Linked DNA regions of Homo sapiens. The protein of the gene in region 5 interacts with the protein of the main gene of each other region in a pairwise test. Each region holds a gene or a part of one and is shown on either strand. Other genes may lie near its edges.

What was found.
Region 1: the proteins of SLC71A2 (region 5) and FUNDC2 interact in binary tests that used the Homo sapiens proteins (3 or more experiments, as listed by UniProt).
Region 2: the proteins of SLC71A2 (region 5) and TECR interact in binary tests that used the Homo sapiens proteins (3 or more experiments, as listed by UniProt).
Region 3: the proteins of SLC71A2 (region 5) and CSGALNACT2 interact in binary tests that used the Homo sapiens proteins (3 or more experiments, as listed by UniProt).
Region 4: the proteins of SLC71A2 (region 5) and ATP13A1 interact in binary tests that used the Homo sapiens proteins (3 or more experiments, as listed by UniProt).
Region 6: the proteins of SLC71A2 (region 5) and UBE2J1 interact in binary tests that used the Homo sapiens proteins (3 or more experiments, as listed by UniProt).
Region 7: the proteins of SLC71A2 (region 5) and SMAGP interact in binary tests that used the Homo sapiens proteins (3 or more experiments, as listed by UniProt).

What each region holds. Positions count from the first base shown.
Region 1 is NC_000023.11:155,043,844-155,047,343, reverse strand, and holds part of FUNDC2 (FUN14 domain-containing protein 2), read right to left. Parts: intron 836-3,500; coding exon 760-835; intron 1-759. UniProt on the Homo sapiens protein: Binds directly and specifically 1,2-Diacyl-sn-glycero-3-phospho-(1'-myo-inositol-3',4',5'-bisphosphate) (PIP3) leading to the recruitment of PIP3 to mitochondria and may play a role in the regulation of the platelet activation via AKT/GSK3B/cGMP signaling pathways.
Region 2 is NC_000019.10:14,536,094-14,539,593, reverse strand, and holds part of TECR (very-long-chain enoyl-CoA reductase), read right to left. Parts: intron 1-3,500. UniProt on the Homo sapiens protein: Involved in both the production of very long-chain fatty acids for sphingolipid synthesis and the degradation of the sphingosine moiety in sphingolipids through the sphingosine 1-phosphate metabolic pathway.
Region 3 is NC_000010.11:43,144,945-43,148,444, forward strand, and holds part of CSGALNACT2 (chondroitin sulfate N-acetylgalactosaminyltransferase 2), read left to right. Parts: intron 1-3,500. UniProt on the Homo sapiens protein: Transfers 1,4-N-acetylgalactosamine (GalNAc) from UDP-GalNAc to the non-reducing end of glucuronic acid (GlcUA). Required for addition of the first GalNAc to the core tetrasaccharide linker and for elongation of chondroitin chains.
Region 4 is NC_000019.10:19,646,677-19,650,176, forward strand, and holds part of ATP13A1 (endoplasmic reticulum transmembrane helix translocase), read right to left. Parts: intron 3,265-3,500; coding exon 3,065-3,264; intron 2,988-3,064; coding exon 2,891-2,987; intron 1,084-2,890; coding exon 923-1,083; intron 853-922; coding exon 738-852; intron 650-737; coding exon 453-649; intron 1-452. UniProt on the Homo sapiens protein: Endoplasmic reticulum translocase required to remove mitochondrial transmembrane proteins mistargeted to the endoplasmic reticulum.
Region 5 is NC_000009.12:94,440,569-94,444,068, reverse strand, and holds part of SLC71A2 (hippocampus abundant transcript-like protein 1), read right to left. Parts: intron 3,085-3,500; coding exon 2,970-3,084; intron 1-2,969.
Region 6 is NC_000006.12:89,342,723-89,346,222, forward strand, and holds part of UBE2J1 (ubiquitin-conjugating enzyme E2 J1), read right to left. Parts: intron 1,035-3,500; coding exon 961-1,034; intron 1-960. UniProt on the Homo sapiens protein: Catalyzes the covalent attachment of ubiquitin to other proteins. Functions in the selective degradation of misfolded membrane proteins from the endoplasmic reticulum (ERAD) and is essential for cells to recover from ER stress.
Region 7 is NC_000012.12:51,260,416-51,263,915, forward strand, and holds part of SMAGP (small cell adhesion glycoprotein), read right to left. Parts: intron 1-3,500. UniProt on the Homo sapiens protein: May play a role in epithelial cell-cell contacts. May play a role in tumor invasiveness and metastasis formation.

The DNA.
Region 1 (3,500 bases), on a different chromosome or scaffold from region 5:
AATTCAGAGACTCTGGCATGATTCAGCAAGTTATGGCTCCCACAGCACAGCAGAATCACCTCAGGAGTTTTAAGTTTTCCAATGAAATCAGACTGTGGGTCAGGAGTGGCACACGTTGGCTCTTTTAAAAACTCCTAGGTGATTCCAATGTGGAGCCAAATTTGAATACCAATGCCACAGAGCTAAGAAATGTATGCCTAATACAATCAAATGTCAGTTTTCTTTTGTTTTTGGAGAAACTGCTCCCTTTTTCAAGTCTTGCTTGTTAGTCTCTCCTAAGCAGTCTCAGAGAACTGGCAACCACTGGTTCTGAAACTATGGGTCAAGGAGACAGCAGACGACATCTGACTGTACTGTCACTTAGCTCCCATTTCTCATCACATGCTCAACATCCCCTCTGTGAAAGCTAGCTATAATATTAGCATATGACACTAAATCATCACAGCACACTTGTATTTTTGAAATCACATCCGCTTAATAATTCAGCTGGTCTTAAAAACTCTTTTAAGGGAGCTATGATAAGGAATTTGCACTTCTGTCGCCACATGAGGAAATAAAATGGGACTGGCAAATAACATTTACTAGTATAATGAATAAAATTTGACTCAAACGGTCACTAGCATTTAAAATAGTACATGAAAACAAGTGCTAAGGCTAGTCTAGTGTGACATAGCCAGGACTGTATTACAACTCCCCACACCACATTCCTTAATGGGCAGGTGGAATTTCCAAACATCTGAGAACATTTCACATACAGACCTGAAGGAGAAAAAATCCACCTCCCACAGCTGTTGCAGCCAACTTTCCAACCTTCTGGAATATGAAACCTGTGCACCTACAAAAACAAACCAACATCAGACAAATTGATGAGCTGTCAGTTACATACAAACATGCATTTCTGGCAATGTTCATATCTTACTTAGCTTAAGATGACCTAGCTCCTTCCTACCCCCTACATAAAGCCAGCCCCAAGAGGAGCATGACATAAGGAAATCAAATCTTGGCTCTATGAATCTTGTGGTCTTGAGTAAGTCCCTTAAAACTCTCAGGTTATATTTTTAAAAGATGACTCTGGCTACATTGTGGAGAAGAGATTAAAGGGGGAGGACGAAGGCAGAGACTCTAGTTAAGACGGTGAGGTAGCGATCCAGAAGAGAAGTGAATGCCAATGGGCCGAGGTAGAGATGGCAAGGAGGGAGCAGACCTGAGGAACTGTTTGTGAAGAAAAAAAAAAACACTCCTGAGTTTGAGGACAGGATGGTTGCAAGGGATAAGGCACAAGATTCTGTCCTGAATGTGGCATTTTTTACAATATAAAAACAAGGAAGAGGAATAGAGGAAAAGGTGGGGGAAGGGAGGGGAGGAGATAATGTCATTTTGAATATGTTGAATGCAAAATGTCCATATGATATCTGAGTGGCAACATCTTGTAGCCAGTTTAATATAATTATGTGTTTCTTTATTACTGTCTATCTTCCTGCCCCCACCCGATACTAAAATGTAAGCTTCATGAAGGCAGAGATTTTGTTGTTTCATTGCTGAACACCTATCAGCTGTAATCATTAACCATTGTTGAAAAAATCCTCCCTAGACTCCAATTCTCCAGCCCCCTTCCCTTTTCTGTGCTCTCCTTTACAGCAAAACTACTTTGAGGCCGTCTCTTTTGTCCTGTGTCCATATTCTCTCACACCTACACCATTCAGGCTTTTGTCCCATGACTTCAATGAAACCATTCCTATCAAGGTTACCACTGATCTTGACCTTACCAAATGCTAGTGTTCACTTCTCAGCTTTAATCTCATCTGACCTACAGCAGCTTTTGACACAGTTGATTACTCTCTCCTTTTTTTAAAAAAGGTATTTTATTGTGTATATTTGAGGTTTACAACATGATGTTATGGGATACATATAGACAAGTAAAGTGGTTACTATAATGAATCAGATTAATATATCTATCATCTCACATAGTTACTTTTTTGTGATAAGAGCAGCTAAAATCCACTTAATTCACAGAAATCCCTAAGGCAATACAATTGCATTAGCTGCAGTCCTCATGCTGTACATTGGATCTCTCGACTTGCTCCTCTTACATATTTGCTACTTTGTATCCTTTGACCCACATCTTCCCATTTCCTCCCATCCTATCCCTGGTAACCAGTTTTATTTCTTTATATTTATTATATTATACAACTGTATATATGACTTTTTCCCCACACATATGAGATCATGCAGTATTTTGTCTTTCTATGTCTGGCTTACTTCACTTAGCATAATGTCCTCCAAAATCTATGCTATGGCAAACAGCACAATCTCCTTTTTTAAGGCTAAATAGTATCCCATTGTAGACACATTTTCTCTATCCATTCATCCATTGATGGACACTTAGGATGTTTCCATATCTTGGCTACTATAAATTAATGCTGCACTGAACATGAGAGGGCAGATATCTTTATGAGGTGGTGATTTCATTTCCTTGGGGTATATACTCAGAAGAGGAATTGCTGGGTCGCATGGTAGTTCTAATTTTAATTTCTTTAGGAACCTCCATACTGTTTTCCATAATGGTTGTAACAATCTACATTCCCGCCAACAGTGTACTAGGGTTCCTTTTTCTCCACACCCTCATCAACAATTATCTCTTGTCTTTTTGATAACAGCCATTCTAACAAGTGCCAGTTGATATCTCATTGTGCTTTTAATTTGCATTTCCCTGATAATTGATGATGCTAAGCATCTTTTCATATACCTCTGGTGGCCATTTCTATGCCTTCTTTGGGGAAATGTCTGTTCACGTCTTTTCCCCATTTTTTAAATCAGGTTATTTGTTGTTCTGCTATTGTACTCTCTCCTTCTTGACATCTTTTTGCTCTGGAATACCATTCTCTCTTGGTTTTCCTCATATATCACTGGCCATTCCTTATCAGACAATTTTGCTGAGTCCTCCTCTTTCTGACTTCTGAATGTTAGGTTGTTCTGAGGCTCAGTCCTAGAACCTCTTTGCTCTGTGTATTCACTTTCTATCTGCTGGGTCTATACCATGATCTCTGATGTAGGTTACTGTTACAGCTCCTCATCTGGACTTCTTACCTCCACTTTCACCCCCTAGAATCTATTCTCAATATAGCAGCTCATACAGTCCTAAAACAGGGGTCGACAAACCGCAGCCTGGGAGCCAAATCCTGCCAGATGTCTCTTTGTAAATCAAGTTGCAACAGAGATTGTGTGATCCATAAAGCCTACAATATTTACCATATGGGCTCTTTACAGAAAAACTTTGCTGACCCCTGCTCTAAAATGTAAGATCAAGGTACACTTCTGCTCATAACCTTCCAGTAGCTTCCCTCCTCACTAAGAGAGAAAGTTAAAGCCTTACACTTAACATCTTGTCTCCCATTACCTCACTACCCTCATTGTCTACTGTTCTCCCCTTATTACATTTCAGCTCAGTAAGAGAAAGAATTACAAATACAACAATGCATGGAGAACCTCATAAGACTTTT
Region 2 (3,500 bases), on a different chromosome or scaffold from region 5:
CTCTGAGGGAAGGTTCTGAGCCATGGCACACTAAGATCCTCCCACTTACAGGCAAAAAGGCCTTCTGCCTGTGGCTCGGTGGGGAACAGTCAGCTAGGAGGGAGCAGGAACAGAAGCAGTGTGCTCCTAGGTGAGGCAGCTGTGACAGGCACCTGGTGGCCAGACTGTCTTCTAGCCTCCACTTCCTGGGATGATTCTTTGTCACAACAGGTTAAAAAGTGGGCTCTGAGTGTGGTGTGACTTCCCCAAGGGTCTTCCCATGAAGAAGGAAAGAGCTGATCATCTCAAAATGTGACTTGCAGCCAGGTGTGGTGGCTCACGCCTGTAATCCCAGTACTTTGGGAGGCCGAGGCAGGTGGATCACGAAGTCAGGAGATCGAGACCATCCTGGCTAACACGGTAAAACTTCGTCTCTACTAAAAATACAAAAAAAAAAAAAAAAAAAAAAAAAAATTAGCCGGGCGTGGTGGTGGGCGCCTGTAGTCCCAGCTACTCAGGAGGCTGAGGCAGGAGAATCGCATGAACCCGGGAGGCGGAGATTGCAGTGAGCCGAGATGGAGCCACTGAACTCCAGCCTGGGTGACGGAGCGAGACTCTGTCTCAAAAAAAAAAAAAAATGTGACTTGCATGGTGTGTGACATTATATCAAAACTGAGGCACTGGCATCTGGGCTTCTTCCTCCACCTTCTGGGCATATGATTTGACATCAGTCTGTCTCCTGGCGCCTGGTGGACCTTCTTCATTAAGTTTTGAAGCTTTTCTCAGCCAGGCGTGGTGGCTCATGCCTATAATCCCAGCACTTTGGGAGGCTGAGGCGGGTGGATCACGAGGTCAGGAGTTCAAGACCAGCCTGGCCAAGATGCTGAAACCCCGTCTCTACTAAAAATACAAAAATTAGCCAGGCATGGTGGCACGTGCCTGTAATCCCAGCTACTCGGGAGGCTGAGGCAGGACAATCACTTGAACCCAGGAGGCAGAGGTTGCAGTGAGCCAAGATTACGCCACTGCACTCCAGCCTGGTGACAGAGGAAGACTCTATCTCAAAAAAAAAAAAAAAGAAAAAAAAGAGTTTTGAGGCCTTCCAAAGAGGTCAGGTGCCAAAAGCATCTCAGGCAGCCCTGGGGATGCTGATCTGTCCTTACCTGCCTAACGTGGGTCCCTCTCCGCTTAAGGATTTTTACCCTGCCTGTGGGCCGCGAAGCATGCTGAGCACTTCACACTCCCCCACAGGCCCCCAGGTGTCGTTATCCTGGCCTCACAGGGTGACAAAACTGAAGCTTAGGTTAAGTCACTGTCCCAAGGACAGAGTGGGTGGCCTCCAAGTCCTTCACCACCACCACACACTTGATTCTTTCCCCAGTGCACGACCCACAGCAAAGCCCACTCTGGTTCTAGAAGAATCCCAGCTCTGCTAGCCACTAGCTGTGGACAAGTCGCTTCACTTTCTGTGCCTCAGTTTCTCCATCAGTCAAGTAGAGATAAGAACAGCATCTACGTCTTATGTTTAGTACACGATTTAGATATGTTACTAGATAAGAAGCACTCACACTGCCGGCGCAGTGGCTCACGCCTGTAATCCCAACACTTTGGGAGGCCAAGTTGGGCGGATCACCTGAGGTCAAGAGTTTCAGACCAGCCTGGCCAACATGGTGAAACCCCATCTCTACTAAAAATACAAAAACTAGCCAAGTGTGGTGGTGGGCACCTGTAATCCCAGCTACTCGGGAGACTAAGGCAGGAGAATCGCCTGAACCCGGGAGGCGGAGGTGCAGCGAGCCGAGATCACGCCATTGCACCCCAGCCTAGGGGACAAGAGCGAGACTTCGTCTCAAAAAAAAAAAAAAAAAAACACTGATAATTAAGCACTATATTCACCGTAATTTACTAGGAAGATTACTATATTCTGGCTGCCGCAGGAAATGTCCCAGGTATTAAAACATTCTCAGCTGCCACTATCAGTATCAGCAAGAAGGTGTTAAGACCCAGCCTGAACTTGACCAACTAGCTCAAGGTCTCTGGCCTTTCTCACGCAGCCAGGCTTGTCAATGAAAGTGCAGGATTCCCGACCAAACCCAACCACCTTATCAGAGTCGCAAGGCCTTTCCAAGCACCGCCCTCACTCAAGGCTGTCAACCCTCCTCTGTTCTCAGGAACCAGTTAGTCCAGAAGGCTTTGCTGGGCCCAGCTGGTGGAGCCTCTAAATCCACCTGGGTGCGGCTGAAACAGCTACTCCACCTGGCACACACCAAAGCCCACCACTCATCCCGTCCCACCTTCTTGTTACTCGGTCCCGCCTCCCCCTCCCTGGTCCCGCCTCCCCCTCCCTGGTCCCGCCTCCCCCATCCAGGCCCGCCGCTTCCTTCTTGCCCCGCCTCCTCCTCCTGAGCCCCACCTCCTCCCCCTCGGCCTCCCCTTCCCCCCCGGCCCCGCCTCTTCTTTCTCAGCCCTACCTCCTCATCCTCAGGAACCACCTCCTCCACCTCAGCCCTGCCCCCTCCTCCTCCTCAGGACATGCCTTTTCCTGCTAAACTCTGCCTCCTACTCCTTGGGACCCGCCTCCCCCTCCTCGACACCCCTCCCCGTCCTCAAGCCCCACCTCCTCCTCCTCGGCCCCGCCCCCTCCTCGGCCCCTCCTCCCCACATCTGCCCCGTGTCCAGAGGTCCAGAGGTGAGTAGGGCCGTACTACTTGTCAAATGTTAGCTGCTGCAAGGTGCTGCACCAAGCTGAGGCTTTCCAGGTATGTATCTGCTCATACGATGCTCACCAGACCAAGAAACCCTTGAAACGATAACCCTGGGAGGCAGGGACAATTATCCCAGTCAATATGAACATTGGGCAGGAGAGAGGAAGGGGCCTCAGCTGTAGCATTTGCCACTTTCCGTGATGTAAATACCCTACCTGTGACTTAGAGATGTCAGCCTGATATCCCTGAACACAGAGTTGGGAAGATGCACACCATCAGCCAATGTCAGCCGGGTCTCGCACACCCAGGTGTCATTTTATGGATTAAAAAGCTAGTTCAAGGCCAGCCGCTGTGGCTCACGCCTGTAATCCCAACACTCTGGGAGGCCAAGGTGGGAGAATCACTTAAGGTCAGGAGTTCAAGACCAGCCTGGCCAATATGGTGAAACCCCATCTCTACTAAAAATACAAAAATTAGCCGGGCGTGGTGGTGGGCGCCTGTAATCCCAGCTACTCAGGAGGCTGAGGCAGGAGAATCGCTTGAACCCAGGAGGCAGAGGTTGCAGTGAGCCTAGATGGCACCACTGCACTCCAGCCTGGGCAACAGAGGGGGACTCTGTCTCACGAAAAAAAAAAAAAAAAACTAGCTCGAGAAACTAAAGACCTTGCCCGTGGGCTCCAAACCTTGTCAGTGGCAGTTAAGCATATGAGCCTAGCACTGATCCAAAGCCCGTAAGCATTGCCACCTTCCCAGGAAGAGTATCAATCAATACTGCCCAACCCAAAGGGGAACTGGCCTGCAGCCCTGGAAAAGGCC
Region 3 (3,500 bases), on a different chromosome or scaffold from region 5:
GTTGATATTTATCCATGGTGAAGCATGTGTCAGAGTTTATTCCTTTTTATTGCTAAGCAGTGTTCCATTGTGTATCTGTTTTACTACAGTTTGTCCATTCACCTGTTGGTGGACCCTGGGTTGTTTCTGGTTTTGGGCTCTACACCTAGAAGCTGCTATGAACATTTGTGTACAAGTTTTGGTATTGTTAAAGTATAAACTGAGGCAGAATAAAATTTTAAAGAGTTTTGTCTGAGCAAACAGCAATTCATGAATCAGACAGCAACAAATCAAAAGTGATTTGGGACTCCACCAAAGGAATGCAAGTGGAAGACTTCTATAGGATGAACAAGGAAACAAGGCAAAGAAAATATTTGATTAATTATATTTATATAGTTGCCTTGTTTAGTCCATCCTATTGGAAAGTCCCTAGTTATGTAAGTTAGTTGATGGCTTCTAATTGGCGTAGCCTAAGTTTGTTTGTTTCTTTTTTTTTTTTTTTTTTTTTTTTAAGAGACAGGGCTAGAGTGCTTTGGTGCGATCGTAGCTCACTGCAGCTTTGAACTCCTGGGCTCAAGTGATCCTCCCACCTCAGCCTCTCAAGTAACCAGGGCAACATGAACTACAGACATGCATCGCCACGCCTGGCTAATTTTTTAATTTCTTATAGAGGCAAGGTCTCGCTAGCTATATTGCCCAGGCTGATCTCAAATTCTGGCCTCAAGTGATCCTCCTGCTTCAACCTCCCAAGGTGCTTACAGGCATGAGCCACCATGCCCAGCCTGATTTTTCTTTAATATAGGCACAGACAAAAAATAACCAAAGTTTACATTTGCAAACAGCCCAAATTAAGTTTTGCTTCTATTGCTTATATTTGCAAGGTCAAGGTTGTTTTAATGGCTTAACTGGCTTTGTCCAGGGGATTTACAGACCTGGTCTCCATCTTATTTTAATAGTATGAATATGTGCTTTCATTTCTTTTAGGTAAATATCTAGGAATGGAATGGCTGGATCATATGAGTAGGCTTACTCACTTATTAAGAAACTTGGCCTGGACTACATAGCAAGACTCTCTCTCTAAAAAAAGATTTTTTTTTAATTAGCCAAGTGTATTAGTCTGGGTTCTCTAGAGGGACAGAACTAAGAGGATATATGTATATATGAAAGGGAGTTTATTAAGGAGAATTGACTCACACCATCACAAGGTGAAGTCCCATGATAGGTCATCAGCAAGTTGAGGAGCAAGGAAGCCAGTGGTGGATCAGTACGAGTCCCAAAAGTAGGGAAGCTAACAGTGCAGCCTTCAGTCTGTGCAGCCAAAGGCCCAAGAGCCCCTGGAAAACCACTGGTGTAAGTCCAAGAGTCCAAAAGCTAAAGAACTTGGAGTCTGATGTTCTAGGTCAGGAAGCATCCAGCATGGGAGAAAGATGAAGTCCATAAGACTCAGCAAGTCAGCCCTTCCATCTTCTCCTGCCTGCTTTATTCTACCCCCGCTGGCAGCTGAGTAGATGGTGCCCAACCAGATTGAGTGTGGGTCTACCCCTCCCAGTCCACTGACTCAAATGTTAATTTCCTTTGGCAACACCCTCACAGACACACCCATGAACAATACTTTGTATCCTTCAGTTCAGTCAAGTTGACACTCAATATTAGCCATCCCACCAGGTGTAGTGGCTCCCACTTGTAGCCCCAGATACTCGGGAAGCTGAGGCAGGAGGATCACTTGAGCCCAGGAGTTAGGCTACATTGAGCTATAATATGATAGAGGCACTGCGCTACAGCTCTGGTAACAGAGCAAGATGCTGTCTTTTTTTTTTTTTTAATAAGAAAATAATCTAACTTGTTAAGTTCATAACTTATTAACAAAACTATTTTATATTCCCATCAGCAGTGTATGAAAGTTCTAGTCCTTCCACGTTAACAACACTTGGTATGGTCATTCTTTTTAATGTTAGCCATTCTATTTTTAGCCCTTCTGTGTAGTGGTGTCTTATTATGGTTTGATTTGCATTTCCCTAATGACTAACAATGTTGAGCATCTTTTTTTTTTTTTTTTTTTTTTTTTTGTGGAGACGGGAGTCTCGCTCTGTCGCCCAGGCTGGAGTGCAGTGGCGGGATCTCGGCTCACTGCAAGCTCCGCCTCCCGGGTTCACGCCATTCTCCTGCCTCAGCCTCCCAAGTAGCTGGGACTACAGGCGCCCGCCACTACGCCCGGCTAATTTTTTGTATTTTTAGTAGAGACGGGGTTTCACCGTTTTAGCCGGGATGGTCTCGATCTCCTGACCTCGTGATCCGCCCGCCTCGGCCTCCCAAAGTGCTGGGATTACAGGCGTGAGCCACCGCGCCCGGCCGAGCATCTTTTTCAAGTGTTTATTTGAAGGGTTCAGGCCTTTTCCCACATTTTAATTGAGTTGTGTTTGTTATTATTTCATTTTGATCATTTTAAAATATATTCTTGGTACAAGTCCTTTATAAGACGCATGCTTTGCCCATATTTTCTCCAGGTCCATCACTTGTCTTCTCATTCTCTTAACAATGTCTTTGAAAGAGCACAGATTGCTAATTTTGATGAAATTCAATTTATCATTTATGCTATTGAATATCATATCTAAGAAATCTTTGCCTAACTCAGAGTGACAAAGATTTTATCCTATGCTTGCTTTTGGTTTTTTTCCATTTAGGTCTATGATTCACCTTGAATTACATGCTAGTGGATGTGGAGTGGTATCTAATTGTGCTTTTGATTTGCATTTCCTTTTTGGCTAATGGTGTTGAGCATCTTTTCATGTATTTATATAGGCCATTTATATATCTTCTTTAGAGAAATGTCTGTTCAGATCTTTTGCTTGTCGAGTTATCTTTTTTTTTTTTTTTTTTTGCTTTTTAAAGTAAGACAGACAAATGATTTACAAATGTTCTCTAATTGTATGGGTTATTTCTTCACTTTCTTGTTGATGTCCTTTGCAACACAAGTTTTTTTATTTTGATGAGGTCCAGTTAATATTTGTTTTGTCTTTGGTGTCATATCTAAGAAGCTGTTGCCTGATCCAAGGTCACAAATATTTACACATAGGTTTTGTTCTAAGAGTTTTCTAGTTTTGACTCTTATATTCAGATATTTGACCCATTTTGAGATAATTTTTGAATGTGGTGTGAAGTAGGAGTCTAGTTTCATTCTTTTGCCTGTAAATATCCAGTTGTCCCAGTACTATTTATTGAAAAAACTATTCTTTCTCCCATTGAACTGCCTTGCTATTCTTGTTGAAAATCAACTAACCATAAATGTGATGATTTATTTTTGGGCTTTAAGTTCCATTCCATTGACTATATGTCTATTTCTATGCCATACCACATTGTCTTAATTACCTGGGGCTCTGTAGTAATTTTTGGAATTGGGAAGTGTTTTCCTTCAATTTCATTTTTCTTGTTCAATATTATTTGGGTTATTCTGGGTTTCTTGAATTTGTATAAATTTTAAGATCAGCTTGCCAATTTCTGCAAGAAGTCCACTGGGATTCTTG
Region 4 (3,500 bases), on a different chromosome or scaffold from region 5:
CACCGGGGACTCCCTGCGTCAGCCCATGCCTGTTTGGGGCCTTTGTGTCCAGTTCCTGGCCGCTGGCCCCCCTGGTTCTTTACGCCTTGGCCTGAGTGTCGGTGTCGCACAGGCCTCCCCAGCTGTCCACCAGCCTGTCCTGTGTAGCCTATGACCCACTTAGTTGTTTTTTTACCCTCTTGATGATTGTTCCTTGCTTGTGGGGCTCTGTGGGGCCCACCCCTGGGACCCCTACCTGTGGACAGGTGTGGACGCCAAGCTGTACCACCTGGAGGGGTCTGGGAGCCTCAGTCCACACCTGCCCTGCCAGCATTTCCTGAGCCATCCCAGCTACAGCCCCCATCTCTGGGGCCCTGGGTCCTGTAACTTGGGGATGACAATTCCCGTGCCTATATCAGCCTGGCCCTGGCAGGCCCATGCATCCCTGGCCTTCCAGCACCTCTGGGGCCCACCTTGGAACGGGAGATGAAGAGGAAGCAGCCGGCCAGCAGCAGCCCCTGTAGGGTGGCCTGGAAGTCACTGAACTTGACTCCCTCCAGGTAGAGGACGCTCTGGCTGTAGGCCAGGATGAGGGCATTGAGCGCCAGGATCTTGAACATCTGTAGCGTGGTCACCAGCGTGCAGCGGCCCTGCTTGATCACGTGGCAGACTGCAGGGTGGTGGGGAGGCAGGTGTGGGTGTGGGTAGGGGTGCCAAGGGGGGAATGAAGGGAGGGGGAGCGGGGGCAGGCAACTCACTGCACTGGATGGATGAGAGCTTGGAGGTGAAGGGTGCTGCGATGCTGGCATCCCCCAGTTTCACAATGGGCGTACTCTCGTCCTCGAGGTCTCGCAGCACCTGGCTCAGGCGGTCCTGCAGGGTAGACAGCAGGCTGTCAGCCCTGGCCAGGATGGGGTGCAGCACCTCCCCTCTTGGGACTCACCCTCTGGGAGGTTGGCTGCTCCTCGGAGGGAGGGAGCCCCGACCGCTGCTTGGCTGTCCTGGAGGTGGCTCTGATGCCACTGTTGCTCAGGGTTGGGCTGTCCCGGGGCCGCCGTCGCCGCTCGACAACCCGCTCAGGGGCATTGGCCAAGAGCGCCACACCTGGGGGGCAGGAGGGTGTCAGACCCGGAGGAGCAGGCTCCACGGAGGGGAAGATTGCTGGCTTCAGAGCCACTGGTCCTGAAGTCCCCCAGCTGGCTCCCGTGAGGACAGTTCCCAGACTTCCCCATTTCACCTGACACCCTAAGGAGACCTCAGAGAGTGCCCGTGTTGCTTTCTACAAACTACTTTAAGAAAACAAACCACCAACAATAAACCCCCACAACAAATGCAATGAAAAAACACACAACACGAGATAGGTCAAAACTAAACTGATTTTGGCCGAGCGCAGTGGCTCACACCTGTTATCTCAGCACTTTGGAAGGCTGAGGTGGGCGGATCACCTGAGGTCAGGAGTTTGAGACCAGCCTGGCTGATACGGCGAAACCCCGTCTCTACTAAAAATACAAAAATTAGCCAGGGGTGGTGGCATGTGCCTGTAATTCCAGCTACTCGGGAGGCTGAGGCAGGAGAATCGCTTGAACCCGGGAGGCGGAGGTTGCAGTGAGATGAGATCACACCACCGCACTCCAGCCTGGGCGACAGAGCGAGACAGTCTCAAAATAAAACAAAACAAAACAACCTAAACTGATTTCAAAAGAAATAGCCAAGGAGCATGATTCTAGGAGGCAAACAACACTCAATAAATGCTTTAGTAGATAAAAGCAGATAAATATTGGAAAAGCAAAAAAACCAACGTAAGATTGATCTTTAAAATTCAATTTAACACCTGAGTTCTTGCAAAAAAAAAAAAAGAAAAAAGAAAAAAAGGCCAGGTGAGGTGGCTCACACCTGTAATCCCAGCACTTTGGGAGGCCAACACAGGCGCATCATCTGAAGTCAGGAGTTGGAGACCAGCCTGGCCAACATGGTGAAACCCCATCTCTACTAAAAATACAAAAATTAGATGGGCATGGTGGCTGGCGCCTGTAATCCTAGCTACTTGGGAGGCTGAAGAAGGAGAATTGCTTGAACCCGGGAAGTAGAGGTTGCAGTGAGCTGAGACCGTGCTATTGCACTCCAGCCTGGGCAACAAGAGAGAAACTGTCTCAAAAAAAAAAAAAAAAAAAAAAGGCAGGGTTCGGTGGGATGCAGTGGTTCACACCTGTAATCCTAGCACTTTGGGAGGCCAAGGCGGGTGGATCACTTGAGGTCAGGAATTGGAGACCATCCTGGCCAACATGGTGAAACCCCATCTCTACTAAAAATACAAAAATTAGCCAGGCATGGTGGCACGTGCCTGTAATCCCAGCTATTTGGGAGGCTGAGGCAGGAGAATCGCTTGAACCCGGGAGATGGAGGTTGCAGTGAGCCCAGATCGTGCCATTGTACTCCAGCCTGGGTGACAGAGCAAGGCTCCGTCAAAAAAAAAAAAGACAGGGTCTTGCACTGTCACTTAGGTTAGAGTGGATCACACCACTGCCTTGAACTCCCAGACTCAAGTGATCCTCCCGCCTCAGCCTCCCAAAGCACTGGGATTCCAGGCAGGAGCCACAGTGCTCAGCCATCTGTGTGCTTTTGACAGAGATCTGGGGCTATGAACCATCTTCATGGCTTCAGCTCTGGGTTTTCTGAGTCACTCTCCCAACTTGTTGCCTCTCTCCTGGCCTCTGGCCTCCGCCCTGCTCTGTTCCTGGGATATTCGCATCCCTTCCTGCCCTCAAAGCCCCTGACCTTGCCACCCCCTCCCATCCTCACAGGAATTAGTGCCCCCGTGGCTGTCACCAAGGGCCAGGTCTGTCTTTCTAGCTCAGTGACATGTCCTCAACACCTCGTCCACAAACGAAATACCCTAGCCCACAGCACTCACCCACGTCAGCATGCTTCAGGGCGCCCACGTCGTTGGTGCCATCCCCACACATGAGGGTCACGTAGCCCAGCTCCTTCAGGCTGGTGATGACAAACTCCTGTATGGGCGGAGACAGGCTGAGCAGGGGCTGCGTGCCTACCGCTGTGCCCCTGACCCCTAGGGCTGTGCACATACCTTCTGCTTGGGAGCCACACGGGCGAACACCTGCACATGGGGGATGAGGCGGAGCAGCTGCTGGGGGTCGGTGGCCTGCAGGTGGGCCAAGCCGTCGCCTGTGAGGCACAGTGCGTACTCCAGGGCCAGTGCCTTTGGGGAGCCCCGGGCCAGGGGCAGCACGATGCTGCCGTCAATGGAGCGCCACTCGCACTGCCGGCCTGCGGGCAGCACCTAGGGTTAGGGCTGGGGGCTTGGCTGACCGGGCTCAGAAGCACCCTCCCTCCACTCGGACCCCAGCACCAGCCAGTCTCTCCTCTCTGGAGCCCGCACCTCCCTACCCACCCAGGTGACCCCCAGCCCTTCTCTGGGGACTCCACAAAGAATGTCCCTCAGGTGCACAGGGTGGAACCAAGAGCCTGGGGCCTGAGCTACTTGCCTGAGAGCCCGGGACACA
Region 5 (3,500 bases):
AATTCTTTTTCATCCATCATCTCCCAACTGAATTAAAAAACACAGTATATCTGAAATTAGTATTATACTAAAAGTACTATAAAAGCTAAAACTCAAGTATTTTTGGAGGGGAAAAAAGAATGTGGAAAATTCCAATGTGGGGAATAGGAATCCTTTGTTCAATATTTACTGAGAATCTACTATGTACCAGATGAAGAAGACAAAGCTCTTGCCCTCAGGTTTTCCCACTTTATTCAAGAATATCAGGGCAACCAAATAACTGCATTATAAACTGCAACGACAAGCAAACAGTTATGGGAACATTCCTACACTCTTCTCAGGTGTTAAGGGGGCACTGCTGCAGCATCTTCAGGTGTTAAAGGGTCTATGGCCTCATGAAACTCTATGCAAAATGTGTCTATCTTAAAGCCTAAAGTAGCCTACTTGCTTAGTCTGTGTTTTTATCTAAACTCCTCTTTCACTTAACATTCAATACAACTCTGATGAATAAATCTAAAGAATGACTTCCCCACAACAAACTCTTAGTAAGTGTTAACTCACTTATTAACATGACTAATCATTGCCGTAGCCCTGAAAGAATTACCACTTTCTTGGTTTACTGAAGAAGTCTGAGTAAGGAAGGTGTACACATTTTTATACTGTTCTTTAATGGGTCTCAAAATGCTCCTTAGAACTTGACTGACACGTTCTGTAATTAATTGGCAATAAATTCTCCTATATCTAGAAGATAGGTAGACTGCAATCCAGGCAGCCTTGCATGCTGAGTTGCTTCTGCTGGCTGGGAGCACACTTCAGCTAAGTGCCGTCTCAGTCTGGATGTGTGCGCTCACTGATTGCTCTCAATGCCCCTGTGAGTAGATATTAACCCTAACTGCCATTATACAATGAGGAGCTGAGCTGGAGAGGGTAATTAAGTCACAGGCGCTTCTGGTTAGAACTCTCTTAAATCTTTCCTGAAAGCACTACTGCTCAGCACAACAGCTGTGTGAAGGGTTTCCCAGCTGAAAGCGAGAAACAAAAATCAAATATTGCAGAAAAATGAGTATCTCAACAGGTATTTCCCATGCTGTAGAAGAAAGCTGTCCCTCACTACTCTGTTGGCCAAGCCTTATGGGCACAACTTGAACAACCTACCTTCTTGTTTTTGTTTTTTCTTTTCTTTTTTTTGGCAGGGCGGGGGGAGGTTGTTAATTTTTGGAGTTTTGGGGGACATTTTTTTTTTTGAGGCGGGTCTGACCGTCGCCAGCCTGGAGTGTAGTGGCGCGATCTTGGCTCACTGCAACCTCTGCCTCCTGGGTTCAAGCAATTCTCCTGCCTCAGCCTCCCAGGTAGCTGAGATTACAAGCGCACACCACCACGCTCGGCTAATTTTTGTATTTTAGTAGAGACGGGGTTTCACCATGTTGGCCAGGATGGTCTCGATTTCTTGACCTCATGATCCGCCCCCACCTCAGCCTCTCAAAGTGCTGAGATTACAGGCGTGAGCCACCGCACCCGGCCTATTTTTGTTTTTGGTGTTCCTGAGTGAGCTCCAAATCTTGTCTTCTTCGAAGCTTTCCTATCAGCTTCTATCTTTGTCCTCCTCCATCACGACTCTGAAGATGCCCCTTTTTAGGGCATGACATGAGAGGGACATTCAGGAGTGGAGGGAAGAAGCAAGGAGAGAGAGAGAGGGAAGGTAGAAGAGTCAGAGGGAAGTGGGGTTGAAAGAGTAGTTTTCAAACTACTGATGTCTAAAGTCAACAAGTTAAAAATTGTTGTGTTTTGTGGAATAGTAGTAACCCATTTATATGCCCATCATTGATTCAGGAAGTTATTCATTCAGTCAGCAATGAATGAGAACTTACTCTACTCCAGGAAGTAGATTTAAAAGACCCAGGAAAAGGAGATAAATAACCTAAGTTTCTGGCATTCAATCTCCCTCCAACCTATTCCCCACAACCTAGCCAGATCATCTTTCTTCTTCCACTTTCTTATTCTGAATATTTTCAAATACAGAGGAAGACGGGAGAAGGGTACCAAGCATACTTCCATGTCTCACAGGTTCAGGCATGGAACACACATGCCCACACATGCACATCCACATGCTATGCTATCTTTTCCCCTGAAACATCTGAAAGTAACTGGCAGAGTCCTGACACTGATGTAAAACGCTTCAGCTATCTTCTAACAAGTCTTTCTTCTACATAATCATAATGCCATTATCATGCCTGAGAAAATCAGAAACACTGTCAGGTTTTAATTATCAGAAAAAAAGGTCTCCTATAACTTTTGTTATTCAGCAACTATGGATTTGATGAATGAGTGAATGTAGTCCTTTTCTACATACCATGTTCCAAATGTATGTCCAAAACACACAACCACTAATAGAGTTAACAATGGATTAACATTGCTGAGGTTCAGCACCTCTCCAAATTAGGTGCACAAAGAGCTTGTGCAACTTGACTGCTTAACGCTCCTCCGGGGATCAGATAACAAGAAACAAATCAAACTAATTTTTTAAAAAATTCAAATGTTCAATTGTAATCCCCAATGTTGAAGGTGGGGCCTGGTGGGAGGTGATTGGATCATGGGGGTAGTTTCTCATGAATGGCTTAGCACCACCTTCCTTGGTTGTTAATAGTAAGTGAGTTCTTGTGAGATCTGGCCGTTTAAAAGTGTGTAGCACCTCCCCCTTCACTCTCTCTTCCTCCTGCTCCAGTCATGTGAAGATGCCTGCTCTGGCTCTGCCTTCCATCATCATGAGTAAAAGCTCCCTGAGGCCTCCCCAGAAGCAGAAGCCTCTATGCCTCCTTTATAGCCTGCAGAACTGTGAGACAATTAAACCTCTTTTCTTTATAAATTACCCAGTCTCAGATATTTCTTTACAGCAGTGCAAGAAAGGACTAATAAACTCACTTTCCAGTAAATTTCTAATACAATGTTAATTACTATTCTGGTTAAAAAATATATATAGTCTATTATCTTACCCATCCATAAGCTGTACTTCGCTCGTGCTCCTGAGTGACATCAGCTACATAGGCAAATATAACAGAAAACGTGACCGAGAAGACTCCAGACACAGAAATCATCGCAAAATACCACCTATAAAAAGATTATTTTAATGACCCAAGGGAAAGGGAGTGTATGTTCACTTTCATTACCTGAGCCAAAGACATCATGTAAAGATTACGCACCAAGAAATAAGTATACTTGTATATGTATGTATACTTAAATATATCAAAAAAAATTTAAGTTAAGACAGGAAGAAGTAGAAACATTCTAATTTCATCATTGTTCAAAGGGGGTCAGTACATGCCCCCTAAAAAAACAAAAGAAGAGGAAAAACAAAGAATAAGGGGATTAGGTAAAAGTTATATTTTTAAAGGTAGCCAACAGACAGAAAAAAAACTTCTCAAATATCCTAGCTGTAAGTAAGGAAAAGACATACAACAAATGATTTGAAAAGATCTACATAAAAGCAGAAGTCATAATGAAAAATATTAGTGTACTTAAGACTA
Region 6 (3,500 bases), on a different chromosome or scaffold from region 5:
AAGTAACTTACAGGTTTAAATTGGAAATTAATCCTTGAAAGAATAGCAAATTATGATAATTATATAATCAAAAAATTACTATGTTTGGGTTATTTTAACAAATCTTTAAAAATTATCCCTTATAGATGCCTAAGAGCTTATTTATAAAATGGTAATACTAATGTATTTAATGTCATCTTACAGTTACCATGTACTTTTCAGTTTACAAAATACTTGCACTTAAGTTATGATATTTTTATTCCCACTGTTACCATGAAAACCTGCCTGGGTATATTTAAATACCCTCCTTTTACAAATGAGAAGACTGAGAGAGGCCGAGATGTTTATACAAAAAGCCTTGAGTAGCTACGGAGACCCATCAAAAGGCTTCCAAACTGTAAAGTATCTGGGGTTCTTTCCACCTCCCCTCCCTCAGACTCAAGATCTAACCTCGGCCGGGTGCAGTGGCTCACGCCTGTAATCCCAGCACTTTGGGAGGCCAAGGCGGGTGGATCACGAGGTCAGGAGTTTGAGACCAGCCTGACCAACATGGTGAAACCCTGTCTCTACTAAAAATACAAAAATTAGCCGGGCGTGGTGGTGGGGGCCTGTAATCCCAGCTATTCAGGAGGCTGAGGCAGGAGAATTGCTTGAACCTGGGAGGTAGAGGTTGCAGTGAGCCGAGATCACATCACTGCACTCCAGCCTGGGCAACACAGTGAGACTCCGCCTCAAAAAAAAAAAAAAAAAAAAAAAGATCTAACCTCAACTTAGCATCTGAGACCCATTTTATAAAGACCACAAAATCCGTTTCTTCTAAAGTGATTTGGAATGGCTAATGAAATATTCATGAAATATGGTGAATAAAACGTCAAACTACATCACACACATCTGTAATGACTCAAAGCAATGAAAAGCAATTTTAAAAAATTTGTTTTAAATATTAAAATCCATATGAAGAACATGGAGATAGAAACTAACCTCTAAAGGCTGCGCATGGTAATGATCTGTTGGATCTTTCAATTCTGCCGCTTCTTTCATTAAACGTTTAACAGCTAAAATAAAATTCATAAAATAGAGATATTTAAAATATACTTTTCTGAATGATTAGCACAGTCTTACGAGCCTAATGAAAAAATGTGTAGAGAACTAGTGCAAATGAGCATATGGCAAAGGTTTAATTATAAGATTATGGGAATAAATAGAGGGGGAGAGGAAGGAAACAGTTGCTAGGCATTAACACTTTAAAAGAGTTATATATTAAATATATAGTGAAGACACTATTTTTATTTAATAAGTACTTATATATACTTCCTATATGGTGGTATTTATTGAAGTGCTTTTACAGACATTAATAACTCATTTAACCCTTAATACAACATTACTAGATAGGTATTATTTTTATCCCCATTTTCCAGATGAAGAAGCCGAGACACGGAGAGATTATATAGTCACACAGCTAGTAAATGACAGAGATGGGATTCCAACACAGGCAATTTGGCTCTACCTGTTAAAATGTCTTTATTAACAAAAAATGTATTCTCTGGATCTCATGCTCGGTGAACAGGAAACACCTCTATATCCTCCAACTCTTGGGACTTTCCATCCACTATCTTGCATTAAATGAATGGACTGTCCCCTGAATTCACTGACTCTCCAAAGCCCCGATGAAATTCCTTCTTGAAATGATCCTTCAGCTTCACTAAAACCTCCAGTCCACTGACCCCACAACTTTCTTCACCCCTCCTATACTTATATTCATTTTCCTCTTTATCCACACCCTTGGCTCTTAGGAGTCCCTCTTGTACACTCCCTTAATAAAATCCAACTGTGCCTGACCCAACCCAACCATCTTATTTGCTGTCTATACCCAAACAGCTGAGCATCACTGAAAGGAGGAAAAAAAGTCAGAGAGGATGGTGCAGTAATGCCATTACAAGTCATTACCAACAACCTCTACTGGGATACAATGCCACCTAATGTCCCCACATTTCTCTAGTAGGCCTTCCAGCCTACTCTTTCCACCTAGCACTCCAAGATTATTTCCCACCTAGTCTAATTTCTCCTCTCTTTCAGTTAATGGCACCCAGCTTTTTATCTCCCTGATGAATGACTGCTAGCAGGAGCTGCTCAGATGCCTATCACAATCTACAATCCTATCTGTATCTGCACCCTCTGTCTTCTATTGGCTCTCAAAATTCAATCCTTTGATATGCACTCTGGATCCCAACCCCTCTCATTTCAAGCTTTTGGTGCTAAAACATGTCAGGATACTGCAGTGGGATGGCTGAGTTAGGGAAAAGGCTTCTCAAAACTGGGTTTGCAACCACTGATGTAGCTCAAAAGAGAGGTATGCACCAGATGCTGGGAGGACAGGCTGGGCATCTAACTTTAGAGCAAATGGAAGAGAAAAGGAGTCAGGTACTGAATGTGAAAGAAATAACAGTAGAAACTCCCCAGGTAGATATGAATAGGAAGAGGTAATAATAAAAGTAAAATGTGTAGAGGCACAGGTTGGAATGTTATGGGGAGAGAGATTAACTGAGAAGGAACCCCTACATGTATATAACCACAATGGTTTGGTATGTATCAAGACTTTTGCATAAAATTGCATTTGAGGCCAGGCGTGGTGGCTCATGCCTGTAATCCTAGCACTTTGGGAGACCGAGGCGAGTGGATCACCTGAGGTCAAGAGTTCGAGACTAGCCTGGCCAACATGGTGAAACCCTGTCTCTACTAAAAATACAAAAATTAGCCAGGCATGGTGGCGGACGCCTGTAATCCCAGCTACTCGGGAGGCTGAGGCAGGAGAATCGCTTGCACCCAGGAGGTGGAGGTTGCAGTGAGCTGAGGTCGTGCCATTGCACTCCAGCCTGGGCTTCAGAGAGAGACTATCTCAATAAAACAAACAAACAAACAAACAAAACCAGGCACGGTGGCTTAGGCCTGTAATCCCAGCACTTTGGGAGGCCGAGGCAGGTGGATCACCTGAGGTCAGGAGTTTGAAACCAGCCTGACCAGCATAGTGAAACCCCATCTCTACTAAAAATACAAAATTAGCCTGGTGTGATGGCACATGCCTATAATCCCAGCTACTAGGGAGGCTGAGGCAGGAGAATCGCTTAAACCCAGGAAGTGGAGGCTGCAGTGAGCTGAGATCGTGCTGTTGCACTCCAGCCTGGGCAACAAGAGCGAAACTACGTCTAAAAAAAAAAAAAAAAGCCCTCCAGGCCGGAGGGCAGTGGTACGAACACAGCTCACTCACTGAAGCCTCAACCTCCCAAGCTCATGCAGTCCTCCCACCTTGGCCTCCCCAATAGCTGAGACCACAGGCATGCACCACCATGCCTGGCTAATTTTTAAATTTTTTGTAGAGCTGGGGTCCCCCTGTCTTGCCCAGGCTGGTCTCGGGCAATCCTCCTACCTCAGCCTTCCAAAGTGCTGAGATTACAGGCGGGAATCAGCATGCCTGGCCAAAAAAAAGTTGTTACTATCCTACTTCACAATTATTAATATTCTTT
Region 7 (3,500 bases), on a different chromosome or scaffold from region 5:
ACCCAGGCTGGAGTGCAGTGGCAGAATCTCGGCTCACTGCAAGCTCCGCCTCCCAGGTTCACGCCATTCTCCTGCCTCAGCCTCCTGAGTAGTTGGGACTACAGGTGCCCGCCACCACGCCCGGCTAATTTTTTGTATTTTTTTAGTAGAGACAGGGTTTCACCGTGTTAGCCAGGATGGTCTCAATCTCCTGACCTCGTGATCCACCCGTCTTGGCCTCCCAAAATGCTGGGATTACAGGCGTGAGCCACCGCGCCCGGCCAATTTTTTTTTTTTTTTTTTTTTTTTGAGACGGAGTCTCATTCTCTGGCCCAGGCTGGAGTGCAGCGGCGTGATCTCGGCTCACTGCAACCTCTGCCTCCTGGGTTCAAGCGATTCTCCTGCCTCAGCCTCCCGAGTAGCTGGGACTACAGGCGCCCACCACCACGCCCAGCTGATTTTTTTGTATTTTTAGTAGAGACGGGGTTTCACCATGTTAGCCAGGATGGTCTCGATCTCCTGACTTCGTGATCCACCCGCCTCAGCCTCCCAAAGTGCTGGGATTACAGTATTTTTAGTAGAGAGGGGGTTTCACCATGTTGGTCAGGCTGGTCTCGAACTCCTGATCTCGTGATACACCTACCTTGGCCTCCCAAAGTGCTAGAATTACAGGTGTGAGCCACCGTGCCCAGCCTTAATTTTTTTTTTTTTTTTTTTCTGAGACGGAGTCTCACTCTGTCACCTGGGCTGGAGTGCAGTGGCTCAATCTTGGCTCACTGCAACCTCCGCCTCCCAGGTTCAAGCGATTCTCCTGCCTCAGCCTCCCAAGTAGCTGGGATTACAGGCACCCGCCACTATGCCCAGCTAATTTTTTGTATTTTTAGTAAACACAGGGTTTCACCATGTTGGCCAGGCTGGTCTCGAACTCTTGACCTTGTGATTTGCCCACCTCGGCCTCCCAAAGTGCTGGGATTACAGGCATGAGCCACCACACCCGGCCTGGGTGTCACAATTTTGAAGTGAGCAGGCAAACCATGTCAGATAAGGAAAGCTTGCAAGAGAAAGCCCAGAGAAAAAAAAGGGAGCCTAGAGCTTGAATTCTGTCTTCTAATATGCCAAGGCATGACCTGTACAAGAGAACTAACAGCAGAAACTGGGAAAGACAGATGTCTCCCCAACAGAAGGAAGAGCAAAACTGGACAAAAGCTACGTAGCATCTTGGAGAGAGAATTCTAGGACAGAATGGTTAGTTGAACTAGCTGAGCATCAGAACCCCTCTCAGCCTTAATTTTTGAATTTTTATAAATGGAAAGTGTTCTATTAGAATTCTCATTAAAATCAAATTTTAAAATAAAAAATCCAGACATACTTAGAATGTCTATCTGGAGAGGAATGATGAAATAAATTACAGGCCATCCATTGTGGAAACAGTTGCTAAAACGAATATGAGATCTACAATATTACTGGGACAGGATACATGGTTAGATGAAAAAAGCAAACTGCCAGGTGGTATATGTAGTAGGACTGCATCTTTGTTTAAAAAAAAAAAAAAAAGTAAATTGGCAGAGTGCAGTGGCTTACACCCATAATCCCAGCACTTTTGGAGGCTGAGGTGGGAGGATTGCTTGAGGCCAGAAGTTTGAGTCCAGCCTGGGCAACATAGCGAGACCCCTGTCTCTCTGTGTATTTTTTTTTAAGTAACTTTAAAAAACCCTATAAATATGCATATATATGTTTGTACATAGAAAAGGTCTAGAAAGCTGTTCTCTGAGGGGCATGTATTACCTTTCAAATAAAAGAACATGCTTGGCAAGGTGGCTTACACCTATAATCCCAGCAATTTGGGAGGCTGAGGCCAGAGGATCACTTGAGTCCAGGAGTTCAAGACCAACCTGGGCAACATGGCAAAACCCTGTCTCTACAAAAAATACAAAAATTAACTGGGCATGGTGGCACGCACCTGTGATCCCAGCTACTTGGGAGGCTGAGGTGGGAGGATCACCTGAGTCTGGGAAGGTTGAGGCTGCAGTGAGCTGTGATTGAGCCACTGCTCTACAGCCTGGGTGAAACTGAGGCCCTGTCTCAAAAAAAGAAAAAAAGGACAAACAACAACAAAATAAACTAAGTTCAGGAAAGCTGGCATAAAAGGAGGAAATGGCTTATAGCTTTTCCCCCATTCTCTCCCGTTTCTACCCCATTTTTTTGTCCAAACAAAGGAATAATTATTAAATAGCACTACAGTCTTTCCAAACCTTCCCTGCTCAGGTTCATAAGATTGAAGGCCCCACCCAAGTCCTAACCAATAGCAAATGACCTTCAAGATCTATTCTGTTCACTTACTCTTTTTTTTGTTAACCCAGATACTGGCTGGCTTCTTTGTGGTCCTTGTTCCCAGCTTGAGCTAAATCTCTTATCACTGAGGCATCAGATCTTTTGCCACCTAAGTCTGCCAGCCTACTTATTTGCTCTAGACCTGCCCAGCAGAGGGCGGCTCCCCGAGTTCTTTCCATGGGAAGCCACCCTGGGACTCGGCCCCCTTTCTTCTGCCTTCTCTTTCATGTGCACCAGCCAGTTGGGTGGAGTGAGACCTTGGGAGCAGTACACCATGACAGAAAGAACACAGGCTTGCAGTAAATCAGACTTGGCGCAAAATCCTGCCTCTGCCATTACTAGCTGTGTGACCTTGGGAAATTTTTTTAATCTTTGAAAATTTAACGGTGACTCATGCCTGTAATCCCGGCACTTTGGGAGGTCGGGGTGAGTGAATCACTTGAGATCAGAAGTTCGAGACCAGTCTGGCCAACATGGTGAAACCCTGTCTCTACTAAAAATACAAAAATTAGCTGGGCATAGTGGTGGGCGCCTATAGTCCCAGCTACTCGGGAGGCTGAGGCAGGAAAATTGCTTGAACCCGGGAGGCAGAGGTTGCAGTTAGCCGAGATTGCACCACTACACTCCAGCCTGGGTGACAAGTGGGAAATTCCATCTCAAAAAAAAAAAAAGAAAAGAAAATTCCTTAACTCCCCTGAACTTCAGTTTTTCCTTCCGTAAAATGAGACTAAAACTTGTTTCATTGGGTTGTGGTGAGGAATAAGTGCAATGAAAAATGCTGCTTTGGGAGGCTGAGATGGGAGGATCACCTGAGGCCAGGAGTTTGAGACCAGACTGGGCAACACAGTAAGACCTTATTTCTACAAAAAATTATTTTTAAAATAAAATAAAGAAAAATGCTAAGTGTCTAATACAGGGTGAGGACAACCTAGGCGGTAGCTGGTGTGATCATTTGGTGGCAAGAGATGAGCTTTACCTGGCACGGTGGGCAAAGCCCACAAGGCACAGTTCCACTCTGCCCTACTTCGAATAGGGCTGACTTATGCACTAGGCACAACAGGCACAGTGCCCTGGGCCCACAATGCTTCGAAAGGCCCATGAAAATGTTTTAAATAATTTTCATTTCTTTTATAATTAGAAGAAGGAAAAGAAACAAAATTTTAGGTCAAAGAAATATTAAGGTTGTTATG